3 linked regions of the Homo sapiens genome follow. The protein of the gene in region 3 purifies or fractionates together with the protein of the main gene of each other region. This does not show direct contact. Each region holds a gene or a part of one and is shown on either strand. Other genes may lie near its edges. The genes, in order: RNASEL, RAB3B and HSD17B1.

Region 1 (3,212 bases), on a different chromosome or scaffold from region 3:
ACGGAAGAGCTGCCCAGGGGTCGGCTCCAAGACTTACCTCTCTCCCAGGCTGCAGCTCCAGCAAAGACCCACCAAAAATCAAATGTTAAAGGTTCTTCTCAACCAGTGAATTCAAGGAGTATCTTATAACTTAAATACACTACACACTTATAACACACCAGGCACCAAGTGAGGAAATGGGATATGATCTCTGCCCTCCCAGGCTTATTGGAGAGACAGGTAAATGCCACCAACTGCTGAGTAAAGCACACAGGGATAGAGCTTTTACCCCTGAGCAAGAGTACAGAATCAGCCTGCCTAATACAGGACCTGATATGAACCACATGCTCAATGAAATGTTTGTGACGATGACAACTGAATGAGAAATGTTTGCAGAATGTCAACAGAAACTCTCAGAGAATTCAAGCAGACGGAAAAATGATCATTTCCTCCCTTCTCTCACTACATACTAGGCCCACATTATTCCAGAATTACTAGAAAGTCAAAAATAACTCCTTTTCCCATTTTCAGACAGCAGGATGACCTTTCTTAAAACTTATCCAGGAATTACTTAGTGAATATTTTCTATTGTAGATATCACCCACTCCTTAAAGTGGAAATGTCACTTAAAGAAAATCAGACTAAATAAGACAATTTAAAGTTTTATTGAGTAAGCTTCACAAATGGGCATTTTAATTGACATGTCCAGGTGCTCATTACAAATCAGAGAACCAAAGCTTCATTTTAAAAGTTAAAGCAATCTTGCTGCTCATAAAGTATTTTTTAAGCCTTAAATTTGTTCCTAATCAACATTTAATTTCATTCAGTGGTATCTATTTATCCATTGCTAGATACCTCCTTTTCAGAAAGAACCTAAGGTACTGTTTTATTCCCATTACAAAGCTCCATCTCAACCACCACAATGATTCATGGAAAGAACATCAGACTTAGCACCAGAAAATTTGTTCAAATCAAGATAGTAACACTTCCTAGCTATACGTCCTAGAGGAAATCAAAATGTTTCTAACCTTAGTTTCCTCATCAGCAAAATAGGGATAACAATGTTGACCTTAAAGGATTGTTTTGAAAATTAAATAAAATAAAATACTCAGATGTAATGTATACATTATAAAGCACCAGAAAAACGTAAGACAGTATTATTATTCATGTACGAAGATGGTTCATTCATTATTCAATGAATATTTATTAAACATTCCCACTTGGCAGACTTTTTGCTTGGCAGTGAAGATACAAAGTCAAGAAAAGACAGCCATCGCCCGTGAGGAGCCTACATTCCAGTGGAGGAACCAAAACTAAAAGGCGGAGGAAAGCTCTGGGTGCTTGGGAGCCAGAAGGAGCTCCTAGACTGGGTATGGGAAGTGAGGGAGGCCTGGGAGCCTCCTGTGGGGCTGACACCAGAAGGAACTCCATCACTACAGATCCAGCAAGAGTAAATAAATCTGAGTCCCTCCTCTGTGGGGTGGTCCACACACTCCACAGTCCTGGGCCTTAAGCTAGTTCAAAAGCATCCCAGCCCCTTAAGTCAGGTTTTCTCAACCTCAGCACCATTGATATTTTTGTCTGGATAATTCTTTGTTGCAGGGGCTGTCCTGTGCAAGGCAGGTTTGGCAGCATCCCTGGTCTTTACCCACTAAATGCCATAGCATGCTCCCCACAAAGCTGTGACACCAAAAACTTCTTCAGACTCTGCCAAATGCTCTCTTCAGTGCAAAATTGCCCCCCAGTTGAGAACTACTGCCTTAAGGTCATGGAAAACCAATGCAGTTGGTTCTGGAAGGAGTGGAATTCATGCATCCAGTGCCCAGACTTATACTAGATGCTCAATAAATACTGAATGAATGAATGAGATTCCTGGAACCCCTATATATGTTTTGGGCCTCATCTGGAAGAGCCCTGGAAGGATAGTTAAGTTTTAAGGTGCCCAAATGAGAGGTACCAATAACACCACATAAATTTATAAAGTGCTAGGTATAAATTGAATAATCTTGGGCCAGTAGCTCACACTCTCTGAGTCTCAGGTTCCTCAGTTCTTAAATGGGGATGATAATCCCTGTTTTGCAAGATCATTGGGAAAATTAAGTGAGAGAATTGTAACATATGCAGCATTAGGGGTCAAGGCACTCATTCTTTTGGTGCAATTGACAAAAGGAATCTTAGCAGAATGTCCTCCCAGTTAGTGGGTAAAGCTTATGGACTAGTGTAGTCTGGGTATATATTGCTTTTGTTATAGACATATGGAATACACGATGCCAGGGACTGACATATCAGCTATGCAACTCATCCCTCACAAGCAACCTGGTGAGTTAAAAGGCCCAGAATGTTGTGATTTGCCAAGGACTCTACAGCTAATAAGTAGTTCCCTGAACTCCAGCAAATCAGTCCATCAGCACCCAGGGCTGGCCAACCCACTGGCCCCACCAGCTCCATCACACTGAGGCTTGTTTGGACTGTGGGTTTGGGGGAAATGCTTTCTATATTCTGTGTTCTGTAGTTTTGTGTAGACATAGATCACCAGATCTGGAAATGTCTTCTGAAAATACAGGGAAGGGTCTCCAATTTTTAATTTCATCCTGAAATAAAACACAAATTGTTCAGCATGCTTGCCCCAAATTATTCTTCCCCGCTTCACAGCATATGGCCCTGAAGATCTCTTTGCTCGCTTGATTTCTATTGCAGAATGAATAAGGACTTTGGAATCTGACAGAGCAAGACTCCTCCCCTGACTCTTCAACTAATTGTGCAACCTTTGGCCACAATCTTTCTGAACTTTAGATTGTTCTTTCATAAAATGGAAATAGTGCAATGCCACAATCCTCTACCTACAATTCCAAAATCCAGAAGAGCCCTGAACTGCAAGGCTTTTTTGTGAGTTTGCAACTAACATCTTTGTCAGCAAAAGCTGATCTAACTAATGTGGGCTATTTTTAGACGTATATAACTCTACCTTCACTTTATCTAGCTGTCCAGTCTCCTGTGTTACTTCACAGAAGGGAGTCACTAGCTCCTGTTCAATTTGTTTTACCATTTATCCAACAAAAAAATGACAAGGAAGATGAAAGCCTGCTGGACATGTCCCTCATTAATTGTAAGGCAACAGTGATAGCCCTTTTACACACAGAGGGAAGGAATTACTTTTCTTTCATCAAAATAAATTTTCTTTTTTCCATCGTAGATATAAACTTAGAATTGGATTTTTTAAATTGTTCTCATTT
Region 2 (3,650 bases), on a different chromosome or scaffold from region 3:
GCCAAGATTGCTCCACTGCACTCCAGCCTGGGCCACACAGTGAGACCCTGTCTCAAAAAAAAAAAAAAAATTACATGAAGAAAATCAAAATCTCAGTAATTCTTGTCTCTTATTCAGAGAAAATCTCTATTAACCTTTTGATGTGTTTCTTCTATTTTTTTCTGTGCACATATAGTTATAAAACTAATACATCACACATACAAGTATTGTCTCATATCGTTAAATATTCTTACATACATGAACTTACATAAAAATTCTTACATTTTAACCATTCTCCTATTGTTGAATATATAAGTTGATGATATGTTTTCACTGTCTAGATAAAGTTTTAACAAATGTGTTTTTGTACATACATATTTGTCTGATTTTCTATTTTTATAGGGAAAATTTTTCTAATTTTGTGGGAAAAATTCCCAGAAGGAATATTTCTGGGTCAAAGAGTATGAACATTTTTAATGCTCTTAAGACTTCCAAATTGATTCCCAGAAAGGCTAAACCAAGTTCCACTCCCACAAGCAAGATGTGAATTTGTATATTTCACTGCATGCTTATCAATCATGGGAATTATTATTAAAAATAAGGGGCTGGGCACAGTGGCACAAAACCTTAATCCCAGCTACTCGGAGACTGAGGTGGGAGCATTGCTTCAGCCCAGAAATTCAAACTTGCAGTGAGCTATGATTGTGCCAGGGCTCTCAGCCTGGGCAACAGAGTAAGGCTTTGTCTTAAAAAAAAAAAAAAAAAAAAAAAAGAAACAAAAATAAGGTTAAAACTTTTTATGTAATAATTACCCACTCAACATTTCTTATGTGCTTGTTCATGCCTCTTGTCCACTTTTCCTTTAGGATTTTAATTATTCTTATTAAATTCTATGAGATTTAAAAAATCATTTTAATCTAGTCAGCAAGCACAATACAAGACACATAATAGATGCTCCTTAAATATGCCTTGGGTTGGGCGCGGTGGCTCACTCCTGTAATCCCAGCACTTTGGGAGGCCGAGGCGGGTGGATCACCTGAGGTCAGGAGTTCGAGACCTGCCTGACCAACATGGAGAAACCCTGTCTCTACTAAAAATACAAAATTAGCTGGGCATGGTGGTGCATGCTTGTAATCCCAGCCACTCGGGAAGCTGAGGCAGGAGAATCACTTGAACCTAGGAGGCAGAGGTTGCAGTGAGCTGAGATCGCGCCATGGCACTCCAGCCTGGGCAACAAGAGCAAAACTCCATCTCAAAAAAAAAAAATGTCTTGGGTTATTAGTTAATTGTCCTGGGGACTTTTTAGGAACCAAAGCAGACTTTCTAAGAGATTGTTTCTTTTCTTTTCCTGCCCAGGACACAGCTGGGCAGGAGCGGTACCGGACCATCACAACAGCCTATTACCGTGGGGCCATGGGCTTCATTCTGATGTATGACATCACCAATGAAGAGTCCTTCAATGCTGTCCAAGACTGGTATGAGACCCATATTCATTCATTCATTTAACAAACTGTTCATTAAAACCTAACATGTGCTAGGTCCTGTATTGTGTGCTGGGGAAGCCCAGATGAATCAGACATGGTTACTGGCCTCAGGAGTTTACAGACGAGAGCAGAAGACAGATCCATAAGCAGGAATGAAAATATCATGTGATAGGCCGGGTGCAGTGGCTCACGCCTGTAATCCCAGCACTTTGGGAGGCCGAGGCAGCCAGATCACCCGAGGTCAGGAGTTTGAGACCAGCCTAGCCAACATGGTGAAACCCCGTCTCTACTAAAAATACAAAAATTAGCCAGGCGTGGTGGCACGTGCCTATAATCCCAGCTACTCAGGAGGCTAAGGCAGGAGAATTGCTTGAACCTGGGAGGCGGAGGTTGCAGTGAGCTGAGATCACACCACTGCACTCCAGCCTGGGCAACAGAGTGAGACTCTATCTTAAAAAAAAAAAAAGAAAGAAAAGAAAAGAAAATGTGTGCTAGGTGCAGTGATGAAGCGAGGCATCAGGGCTGTGGGAACCCAGCAGAGGGCTCTCTGACCCAGTTTAGGGAGTCAGAGAAAGTGCCCTGGAGTTGCTGACACATATGCTGCATTTTGTAAGATGAACAGGAGTTAGCCCGAGGGACAAATGAATAAGGATGTTCCAGAAAATGAGTACAGATGTGCAAAGGTGAGAAGGTAGGTGCGAGTGTTGAAGGGCATAGGTCATGAAGGGTTTTGTGTGCTGCTATAAGGAGTTTGGATTCTGTCCCATAGGTGATGACGTATGAATTAGAAACCAACAGGTTCACATTTGTGTTTCAGGAAGATTACTGTAGCTCCAGTGGAGAGTGAATCCACATAGCACTTAAAGTTTATCCCTGGGCTGAGCCAGGTGTCCAGGAGCACATACAGTCCAAGTTCATCAAGGCTCAATATGCAATGGAAATCAGTACAGCACCCCAGAGTTGCAACCTCTGAGCAACTTATAGCTTTCTTCCTGGGGCACGATTCCCAGGAGAAGGGAGCCTGAGGGGAAGGACACATGAGAGGGAGGGCCAGGACCCAGTGTCCCTGCTCAGATGAGGATGGGGGAAGGTGGGACATCTGTGTGGTGGCTGTCCTTCAGAATCGGAGAGGCTGAGCAGACCAGGCACACAGCAGCAGTGCTGGCCAGTGCTGGGCTTGTCTCCTTCTCCCTTTTGCCTAATGGTGACCTTCGAGGACTTCGCTTCTCCCAGGGAGCAGTTGTCATAATTGTGTTGGCTTCACATACACAGCTTGAGCTGAGAGTGACCTTGTGGGCTGCCTGCTGCACTCCCCTGTTCTGACCAGCAGTTCAGGGTGTCATCAGCATGTCTGTCATTCCTGGGGGTCTGTGTTCTCCTTTTCTGCCTCCTGGTTATCCTCTTCTTCCTCCTTTCTGTCCCTTCCTTTTAAATAACTCTTTCTTCCCTCTACCTTGGGTCTTTCTCCTCTCCTTCCTCTGTTCTCTTCCCCTTCCCTTTACTCTCTCCACTCATCATTTTCCTCCCTTCCTCCCCTCTCCCTGCTCCTCCTCTTCTCTCTCATCACATCTCCCCTGAAGTGTCTCCACGCTGCCCATTTCCCTGTTGGCCTTGACCCCCTTCCCTTCCTCCCTCAGTCTCTGTTCATTCTGCCTCAGGAACACGGTGACTTTAACACCTGGTGACGATTCCTCCAAGAATAACCTGAGTTTGTTGCTAACCTGGGAGCTGAGAGGAAATGGGGTGGGAGAAGGGAGGAAGATGAAAGAAAGAGTAGCATGGGAGATAAGGAGAGCTGGCCCCAGTTACCTGCCTTGAGTCTGAAGACTGAGGGTCTATCTCTCCCAAGCCCTGGCCTTTGAGTTTTGTCTGTGGGTAACTTGGTCTCAGTCTCACCCCTACCTGCCATCCAAGCCCCAGTGCCCAGAATGGGGCCTGGTTTCCTGTGGGCCCACAAGAAGTGGTGGTTGAGTGAATTCCATCCTTTGAGGGAATGGCTTCTCACCATAAATGAGAAGGTTGGTGGTAAGATCAACTTTAAGAGCAGGGTCAGTAGTAGGTTCAGGTTGCAGTTAGGGTTGAGTTAGGTTGTCAGTGTCAGGGTAGAGTCAGATTCAAGATCTGCTTCAGGACTGACCATTCACTGGCTCGTTCATTTATCAGCATTCACTGACACCTTCTTCGCTG
Region 3 (3,750 bases):
GCTGCGCTGGTAAAACTGGCTAACGCGATCTATCTTAATTAGCCACCCACAGCTGCTACCGCCGCCCCATCCCCAGGGACCACACAGACCCAGGGGACAAAGAAGGGCGCGGGAGACAGCGGCTGAGGAAGCCTTTACTGCGGGGCGGCCGGAGGATCGCCGAGCTCAGGGTCCCCCACCGCACCGCGCCCGGCCTCGTCCTCTGCCCCAGGCCCGGCCCCGCCCCCAGCCTCGGCCCCAGCCTCGGCCTTTGCCGGAACGTCGCCGAACACTTCCCGGTGCATGGCGGTGACGTAGTTGGAGCCGCTGGGGTCGTCCAGGCGCATCCGCAGCAGGGGCAGGAAGCGCTCGGTGGTGAAGTAGCGCAGGGTCGGCTTCGGGGCGCGCAAAGCGGTGAGGAAGACCTGCGGCGGCGGGAGGAGAGCTGTGGCCACCGCTGCGCGCCGGAGGACGCACCGCCCCCACTCCTGGAGTCCAGCCCGGCGCTCACCTCCGCCACCTCCTCAGGGTTCTGCGCCGCCTCGCGAAAGACTTGCTTGCTGTGGGCGAGGTATTGGTAGAAGCGGTGGAAGGTGTGGATGTCCGTGCGGTCCAGCACCTCCTCTGGGCTGCCCAACACCTTCTCCATGAAGGCGGTGTGCACTGGGCCGCACTCGATCAGGCTCAAGCTGCTGGCCGGAGAGCAACGAGTGGGAGGGGGCGGACGCCAGCCAGGCCCCAGTCCCAGCCCCAACCCCAGTCCCAGCCCCAACCACGTCCCGGCCCCCGACCGCGAGCAGCACCGCTGCGCTGGGAAGTGAGGCGGAAAGGGCGCTGGGGATAACCAGAACATTTGAAACGCGGGTTCCTGCCGGAGCAGCCCTCCCAAATCCATCTGAGGCTACAAGGGAGCCCTGGTGTCAGGATTCGAATCTAGCGGGGTCCCTGGCCGCTGTGTGACCTTGGGCCAGTCACCTAACCTCTCTGGGCTGGAGCTTCCCCATAACAATACCAACACTTCAGCAGCTAGGTCAGCAGGTGGCACAATGCGTGCCATGCGCCCAGCCCAAGTGCCTGGCACACAGCTAATGTGAGCCGGGCAGAGAGGGCCAGGGAGATCGCCCCAGAGCGGCTCCCGCAGGACAGGGTGCTCGGCGTCTCTAGGTCAGAGTTAAGAGGGTTCGGGGAACGGGGGTGTTGACTCACTGGACCCCAAAGGGCAGCAGCAGAACCGCCAGACTCTCGCATAAGCCTTCGAGCGCGAACTTGCTGGCGCAATAAACGTCATTGAAAGGCAGCCCTTAGGTGGGGAGACGAGGTTCCTGAGGCGCAGCGGCCAGGGGGTCATCCCCGGGCAGACGGTGCCCCTCCAAGCTGACGGCACCCCACTCCACCCCCCCCGCGGAACCTGCCTTCAAGGCTCAGCTCCGCACACAAAGAATCTGGAGCTGCCGAGGCCACTCCCTACCACTCACCCATCAATCCTCCCACGCTCCCGGTCACCAACACGCGTCCCGAACCGCGCCTCTTCATGTCTGGCAGGAAGGCCTGCAGCATCCGCACAGTCCCTACTACATTCACGTCCAGCACAGAGGCCACGGCGTCCTCCCCCAGCGCCTCCAGCGGCCCCAGCAGGCCCAGGCCTGCGTTACACACTGCGGAGACAAGAGGCCCGACCAGCCCGCCTCAGCATCACCCTCAGCACGGCCTGTCCCCTCGTGCTCCCTGGGCCTGGGAACATGTTGGTTTCAACGCAGGGCGGAGAAGGCTCCTAGGAGCCCATATGCTTCCAGGAGGCTCACCCAGCACGTCCACGCGGCCCTCAGTCACGCGTTCCCGGGCAGCGGCCACGGATTTTGAGTCCCTTACGTCCAGCTGCAACGTCTCCAGGGATCCCGGAGGGCATGCCAGGGCCCGGGCCGCCTCCCACAGCCGGCCCTGTGTTTTCAGGTCCCTCAACGTGGCATACACTGGAGGTTTTGGGAGAGGAGGAAGATCTGACTTCCCTTCTGGCCTCCAAGGGCTCCTCCCTTCTCTCCCTCCCTGTCCCTGCCTATCTATACCTTTGAAGCTCTGGGATGGATCTGAAGCCAGACGTACGGCCAAGTGCAGGCCGATGCCCGAGGAACAGCCGGTGATGAGCACCACGGTGCGGGCCATGGTGAGACTGTGGGGAGAGGCTGGGGCTCTGGGCTTGATATCACCTGCTTCGCCCCGCCCCGCCTGCGGGCCCCCACCCCTTGTTGTGTCTCCCACGCAATCTCAAGGATAAGCCTTCCTGCGGGTCCCTGGCCCGCTCTCCCCACCCTGTTCTGAGCCAAAACAGACATGAGCCCACTGCTTGGAACAACAAACTGTCCTGGTTGCTGGTCAGAGGGAGGGGAGGCTTTACAAGCAGGTGTGGGTTCCCACGTGGGCACAGAGTGGCCCCCTGGGCAGATTCCCCTGGGTATGCCTCTGTGCCACAGGAGCGATTATAGTGACCGCAGTTTGCTGCAGAGGCTGTGAAAGTAAAGGCGTTGGGAGGTGGGAGATGATTGTATATGTGCTGGTTTCGTCCAGGGTTCCTAGCTCATAACTCACATGACCATGGTTACAGTCTTACGTTGTCATGTTGGGGTGCCTCAGGCCTCAAAAAACAGCCTTTCGTCTCTCTGACCTTCTCCTGTCCTCTTTTCAGCTGCCCAAGGCAGGACTCTAATCTGATTGTGGGTTGTAGGATCCTCATTCCAGAGTGGGTCCTTGCCCCATACCCTGGAGAAAGGAATGCTGCACAAAGGCCCAAAGAATCTGGACTGGCCTTGCTGGGCTTAGATCAGACCCTTTTTGCCCAATCACATTATCACAGTTGTCCATGCTTCAGTCATGGACAGCCAATGGAGTTCTCCATAAAAGGCCCAAAGGACAGGGTTCGGGAGCTTCTGAGGGCTGAACGTGTGGAGGCTGACAGAATGTGCCCAGAGGGTGACGTAACCCCAACTCTATGGAGATAGAAGCTCCTGCTCTGGACCCTTCCAGACCGCCCTGTCTGTATCTCTTCATATGGCTGTTTATTTCTATCCTTTAAAATATGCTTTGAGGCTGGGCACGGTGGCTCATGCCTGTAATCCCAGCACTTTGGGAGGCCCAGGAAAGGGGATTGTTGGAGCCCAGGAGTTCAAGACCAGGCCAGGTAACAGAGTGAGACCCGGTCTCTGCAAAAAATATTAAAAAGCTTCCCAAGTAGCCGGGACTACAGGTGTGTGCCATCACTGCCACCATACCCAGCTAATTTTTTGACTTTTTTGTAGAGACGGGGTCTCACTTTGTTTCCCAGGCTTTTTTTTATTTTTGAGACAAAGTATTGCTTAGGTTGGAGTGCAGTGTCTTAATCTTGGCTCACTGCATCCTGCATCTGCCTGGTTCAGGCGATTCTCCTGCATCAGCCTCCCGAGTAGCTGGGATTACAGGCACCCGCCACCACGCCCAGCTAATTTTTAGTATTTTTAGTAGAGACGGAGTTTCACCATGTTGGCCAGGCTGGTCTCAAACCCCTGATGTCAAGCGATCTGCCCACCTCAGCCTCCCAAAGTGCTCGGATTATAAAAAAGTGCCACCCCACCTGGCCCTGTCATTTTTAGAAGATTATTTTATTTTGAGACGGAGTTTCGCGCTTCTTGCCCAGGCTGGAGTGCTGTGGCACGATTCTGGCTCACTGCAACCTCCACCTCCCGGGTTCAAGCAGTTCTCCTGTCTCAGCCTCCCAAGTAGTTGGGATTACAGACACGTCCC

Evidence for each region.
Region 1: the proteins of HSD17B1 (region 3) and RNASEL purify together in Homo sapiens (affinity purification with mass spectrometry; one large-scale study listed by BioGRID and IntAct). This does not show direct contact.
Region 2: the proteins of HSD17B1 (region 3) and RAB3B purify together in Homo sapiens (affinity purification with mass spectrometry; one large-scale study listed by BioGRID and IntAct). This does not show direct contact.

Annotation. Positions count from the first base shown.
Region 1 is NC_000001.11:182,573,009-182,576,220, forward strand, and holds the end of RNASEL (2-5A-dependent ribonuclease), read right to left. Parts: intron 2,571-3,212; coding exon 2,384-2,570; 3' UTR 626-2,383; downstream 1-625.
Region 2 is NC_000001.11:51,935,098-51,938,747, reverse strand, and holds part of RAB3B (ras-related protein Rab-3B), read left to right. Parts: intron 1-1,335; coding exon 1,336-1,454; intron 1,455-3,650. UniProt on the Homo sapiens protein: The small GTPases Rab are key regulators of intracellular membrane trafficking, from the formation of transport vesicles to their fusion with membranes.
Region 3 is NC_000017.11:42,551,323-42,555,072, reverse strand, and holds the start of HSD17B1 (17-beta-hydroxysteroid dehydrogenase type 1), read right to left. Parts: upstream 2,151-3,750; 5' UTR 2,140-2,150; coding exon 2,043-2,139; exon of another isoform or gene 1,950-2,042; coding exon 1,782-1,949; exon of another isoform or gene 1,635-1,781; coding exon 1,455-1,634; exon of another isoform or gene 1,280-1,454; coding exon 1,186-1,279; exon of another isoform or gene 672-1,185; coding exon of another isoform or gene 669-671; coding exon 491-668; exon of another isoform or gene 405-490; coding exon 135-404; 3' UTR 1-134. UniProt on the Homo sapiens protein: Favors the reduction of estrogens and androgens. Converts estrone (E1) to a more potent estrogen, 17beta-estradiol (E2). Also has 20-alpha-HSD activity. Uses preferentially NADH.